Regions from separate parts of the Homo sapiens genome. Here region 1 is linked to region 2. Evidence: fine-mapped expression QTL. A gene starts in region 2. The other region holds a variant in brackets. All regions are shown on one strand. Distances are between the middles of the regions.

Region 1 (2,779 bases), 560 kb after region 2:
CTGGGAGGTGAGGAGCGTCTCTGCCCGGCGGCCCCGTCTGGGAAGTGAGGAGACCCTCCGCCCGGCAGCCGCCCCATCTGAGAAGTGAGGAGCCCCTCTGCCCAGCAGCCACCCTGTCTGGGAAGTGAGGAGCGTCTCTGCCCAGCAGCCACCCCGTCTGGGAGGGAGGTGGGGGGTCAGCCCCCCGCCCGGCCAGCCGCCCCGTCCGGGAGGTGAGGGGCGCCTCTGCCCGGCGGCCCCTACTGGGAAGTGAGGAGCCCCTCTGCCCGGCCAGCCGCCCCGTCTGGGAAGTGAGGAGCGTCTCCGCCCAGCAGCCACCCCGTCCGGGAGGGAGGTGGGGGGATCAGCCCCCCGCCCGGCCAGCCGCCCAGTCCGGGAGGGAGGTGGGGGGGTCAGCCCCCCGCCCGGCCAGCCGCCCCGTCCGGGAGGTGAGGGGTGCCTCTGCCCGGCCGCCCCTACTGGGAAGTGAGGAGCCCCTCTGCCCGGCCAGCCGCCCGGTCCGGGAGGGAGGTGGGGGGGTCAGCCCCCTGCCTGGCAAGCCGCCCCGTCTGGGAGGGAGGTGGGGGGATCAGCCCCCCGCCGGGCCAGCCACCCCGTCCGGGAGGTGAGGGGTGCCTCTGCCCGGCCGCCCCTACTGGGAAGTGAGGAGCCCCTCTGCCCGGCCAGCCGCCCCATCCGGGAGTGAGGTGGGGGGGTCAGCCCCCTGCCCGGCCAGCCGCCCCGTCCGGGAGGTGAGGGGCGCCTCTGCCCGGCCGCCCCTACTGGGAAGTGAGGAGCCCCTCTGCCCGGCCACCACCCCGTCTGGGAGGTGTACCCAACAGCTCATTGAGAACGGGCCATGATGACAATGGCGGTTTTGTGGAATAGAAAGCGGGGAAAGGTGGGGAAAAGATTGAGAAATCGGATGGTTGCCGTGTCTGTGTAGAAAGAGGTAGACATGGGAGACTTTTCATTTTGTTCTGTACTAAGAAAAATTCTTATCCTGTTGATCTGTGACCTTACCCCCAACCCCGTGCTCTCTGAAACATGTGCTGTGTCCACTCAGGGCTAAATGGATTAAGGGCGGTGCAAGATGTGCTTTGTTAAACAGATGCTTGAAGGCAGCATGCTCGTTGAGAGTCATCACCACTCCCTAATCTCAAGTAACCAGGGACACAAACACTG[T/C]GGAAGGCCGCAGGGTCCTCTGCCTAGGAAAACCAGAGACCTTTGTTCACTTGTTTATCTGCTGACCTTCCCTCCACTATTGTCCTATGACCCTGCCAAATCCCCCTCTGCGAGAAACACCCAAGAATGATCAATAAAAAAATAAAATAAAATAAAATAAAATAAAATAAATAAAGTTTCATGCGCATCCGTGTGAAGAGACCACCAAACAGGCTTTGTGTGAGCAGCATGGCTGTTTATTTCACCTGGGTGCAGGCGGGCTGAGTCCGAAAAGAGAGTCAGCCAAGGGAGATAAGGGTGGGGCTGTTTTATAGGATTTGGGTAGGTAAAGGAAAATTACAGTCAAAGGGGGTTTGTTCTCTGGCGGGCAGGAGTGGGGGCCGCAAGGTGCTCAGTGGGGGTGCTTTGAGCCAGGATGAGCCAGGAAAAGGAGTTTCACAAGGTAATGTCATCAGTTAAGGCAAGGACCGGCCATTTACACTTCTTTTGTGGTGGAATGTCATCATTAAGGTGGTGCAGGGCATATTCACTTCTTTTGTGATTCTTCAGTTACTTCAGGCCATCTGGGCATATACGTGCAGGTCACAGGGGATGCATGGCTTGGCTTGGGCTCAGAGGCCTGACACTCCTGCCTTCTTATATTAATAAGAAAAATAAAACAAAATAGTGTTGAAGTGTTGGGGCAGTGAAAATTTTTGGGGGGTGATATGGCGAGAGAATGGGTGATGTTTATCAGGGCTGCTTCAAGCGGGATTAGGGGCGGCGTGGGAACCTAGAGTGGGAGAGATTAAGCTGAAGGGAGGTCTTGTGGTAAGGGGTGATATTGTGGGGATGTTAGAAGAAACATTTGTCGTATAGAATGATTGGTGATGGCCTGGATACGGTTTTGGATGAATTGAGAAACTAAATGGAAGATACAAGGTCTGAATAAAAGAAGGAGAAAAATGGGTATTAAAGGACTAAGAATTGGGAGGACCCAGGACATCCAATTAGAGAGTGCCCAAGGGGGTTCAGCGTAATTACTTGCTTGGTTGGCAAGTTTTGGGGCTCTATCCTTGAGTTTTTTTATGTTGTCATACACCAGGCCAGATTGATTTAGGTAAAAACAACACTCCTCATTTATGAATATGCAGTCCTCCTTTTTCAGCAGTGAGTAAGTCAAGGCCTTGGCGGTTCTGGAGGACAACTGCAGCTAAAGAGTCAACTTGGGCCTGGAGGACTGATAAAGTTTGTGATATGTGTGTGATGCTAGCAGAGAAGTCATGAGACAGGCTACGGAAGGTCGTGACAGAGGTTGAAATGCCTGCTATTCCAGTACCGAGAGCAATAGTGGAGGCAGAAAGTCCTAAACCGACCATCAAGGGAATTAGTGGAATAACTCTTTTTTGTCGTGTCGGTGTCATGAGGGGAACAGGGAGCTCTTCGGTCCCATTTGCAAATTGAATTTTGGGGGTAAGGAAGACTAGTGTACATGTGCCTGTCCAATTAGCAGGTAGACACATGTAGGTAGAGGATCCACAGAGGAAGAAGAGACCTTGTGTGAGGCAAAACTGGAGATGTAAAGTAAAAAGATGAGAAGGAGTGCTGAAAGGGGTGTCTTGTACCCAGACTCCTA
Region 2 (2,779 bases):
GGGAGGTGCCCTACAGGAGAAGCCAGGAGGGGCCTCTTGTCCCTGTGGTGGGGGCCGGGCTGGAGCAGGCTGCAGCAAGAAAGACCTGAGGCATGCGCAGGGCCTGAGAGCCTGGCTGGCTGGGCTGGTGTGTGTGTGTTGGGGGGTTCCCAGGGCACTCTGGCCCAGGGAGCAGTTCTGATTCTGCAGGCGATGCCCAGCAAGAGGCTGCAGACCCCTCAGAACTTCCCCTCCTTTCTCCCTGGAAAGGAGCTGGGGAACCTATAGTGCAAGTCTGTGGACCACTCAGTTATGGAGGGAGGCTGTGCCTGAAAGTGGACACTGCGGTATGCCCCTTCCACCACCTTGGCCTCCACTGCTGTCCTCAGTACAGCCGCTTCTCCTAAGAGTGCAGGCCATGGACGCCACCCTTGATCTGGGCCGACATGGTTTGCTTCTCAAAATTCAGTTCTCCTGAGTACATCATGGACTGAAGGACAGACAGGCTGCGGCCCAATATCCTGGCAGCCAGGCTGGATGCCCGCTATGAGGTAGGACACGAACTTATGAATGGATCCTTTGTCCTGGATGGAGCCCAAGACACCCTGCGCGATCTTCACCTTATTCCCCTTGCTGACGTATCATTTCTGGCTGCTGCTGCTCTTCTCCATGGCATCCAGTGAGCCCATGCCCTGGTACTTCTTGAGCCGCACCCCATCTGAGAAGAAATACTCGCCGGGGTCCTACGTGGTGGTGGCCAGCAGGGAGCCCATCATCACTGTGGAGGCTCCAAGGGCCAGGGCCTTAACCACGTGCCCCACGGTCTAGATGCCGCCATCGGCTATGATGGACACACCAAAGCACAGGGCATACTCGGCCACCTTGTACAATGCAGTGCCCTGGGGCCCACCGCAGGCCATCACTTCCTGGGTGATGCAGATGGAGCCGCAGCCCATACCTATGCGCAGCCCGTCCACCGCAGCGTCAATCAGGTTTTTGGCCTGGGCGGCTGTCATCCCAATCACCTGGAGGTGGGGGTACTTCTGTTTGATGTAATGCACCGTGGCAATCTGATACACCGAGTTCCCTTGGGACAAGTCCAAGACTACGACGTCTACCCCCGCCTGGGTGAGCAAGTCCAGGCGGTATTTGTCATCCTCAGGGGTGCCCACAGCTGCCCCACGCAGTAGCTGCTTGTGGGAATCCTTGGAGGCCAGAGGGTAGTCTCTGTTCTTCTTCAGGTCGGTGCAGGTGATCATGGCCACCAGCTCATCGGATCATTGACGAAAGACAGCTTCCCTTTCTTGCTATGCTGCAGGATCTCATTTGCCTCTTTCAACATCAGGCCTGCTGGAGCCAACACTGAGGAGGGTGGTGTGGTCCTCCTCAGCAAGAAAGTTGATGTCTCTGGAGGTGACGATGCCCACCAGCTTGCTGCCTATGGTGCCCGTCTCAGTGATGGGGATGCCAGAGAAGCCATGCCGCATCTTGGCCTCCAACACATCACCCACAGTGTGCGAGGGGGTCAGCACCACCGGGTCCGTGATGAAGCCCTGTTCAAACTTCTTGACCTTCCGCACCTCCTTGGCCTGGAACTCTGGGGTGCAGTTGTGGTGAATGAAACCAATACCTCCCATCAGAGCCATTGCAATGGCTATGTCGGCCTGTCACAGTGTCCGTGGGGGAGGAAATGAGCGGAGTCTTCAGCGTGATCTTCCGGGTCAGGGCTGAGGTCAGGTCCGCCTCATCAGCTATGAAGTCTGTGAATCCTGGGAGAATCAGGAAGTCGTCGTAGGTGAGGCAGTCGGCGCTGGCAAAGAGCTGCTGCGCGGGGAGCCAGTTATCGGGCACATAGTCGGTGCCGCCCCTGATCAGGTAGTCCGTCATGCTGCCGCGAAACCCTGCGACATCCGCGCGCAGCCGCCTGCTGCTGCTGCCCCCGCGCTGCGGCCATGCTGCCGCTGCGAGCCGGGCGGGGCCGCTTCTCTCTCTCTCTCTCTTTTTTTTTTTCTTTTTAAATAATTTTCTCTCTCAGAGTCTGTCTCTCAGGGTCCTCTTTTCCCAGTCCCTCTGGCCAGGAGTCTTCTAAGTTTTCCACACAGTTGCACAGTTCTGTGTTATTGGATATACCCGGGGGATGAAGTAATGAAAGAAAAGACTGAAAATAAAAATGGGAATTCCTTCCACAGTCTTTACACACAGAGGCCCCTAGAGGCCCATTTTCCTGGTTCCTCTGTCCAGAAAGATGGATTTCTAGGGCTTACATTCATGCTGCTGCCTCTACATGCACTGAAGCTGGTCAATGAAGCTGGCCTTGGGGCAGAGGGAGAGAAAAACACATTGGGATTTCACCTTCAACCTCCACTTTCCACCTCTCAGGGTCCCAGTTTCTTAGTACTCTGACAGAAAACCAGGGTTTTCTCAAAGTTTTTGCTGTCTGTTCCCATCACATTGTTCCCTGATTTGGCCCATCCTTAAGCCAAGACCAGATGATCTTGAAGGAAAATATCCTAGGAAACTCACTATTGGCATACTGGTCATTTTTTGAGTTTTGATGTCGCTCCTCAACCTCCTTGCTATTATTTTGTTTCGGAATCATCCTCAGGTAAGTGTTTTAGTATTTTGTCCTGAATTTTTAATTGTAATGAGTGAAAGAGAAAGATTCTAGCAGGCTTACTTCATCTTGGCTGGCACCTGAAGTCCATCCATAGGATATATTTTTAAATTGTTCATGTACTTGGCCACAAAGAAAGTCTCTAAGAGTTGGTAACACACAAAACATGTTCTCTGAAAACATTGC

Which allele goes with the higher level. Alleles are on the strand shown, and positions count from the first base shown. SD is a standard deviation of normalised expression in the study named.
With allele C in place of T in region 1, the expression in lung of the gene that starts at base 1,762 in region 2 is lower (small effect, 0.17 SD a copy in GTEx).

What was found. PIP is the estimated chance that this variant, and not a neighbour inherited with it, causes the effect. A credible set is the group of variants that fine-mapping cannot tell apart.
Region 1: its variant is the best candidate, but not a certain one, in a credible set for the expression of CALCRL-AS1 in lung (GTEx, PIP 0.85).

Annotation. Positions count from the first base shown.
Region 1 is chr2:187,556,599-187,559,377 of GRCh38, forward strand. No RefSeq gene overlaps it. Among named protein-coding and RNA genes, the nearest start is that of TFPI, 3.6 kb to the left of the region's middle. RefSeq lists enhancers at 879-1,463, 1,464-2,046. The variant T/C (reference allele first, on the strand shown) is at 1,165.
Region 2 is chr2:187,001,512-187,004,290 of GRCh38, forward strand. It overlaps CALCRL-AS1 (CALCRL and TFPI antisense RNA 1), which reads left to right and starts at 1,762. Exons shown (of 6, transcript NR_187179.1): 1 at 1,762-1,854. It also overlaps the pseudogene IMPDH1P7.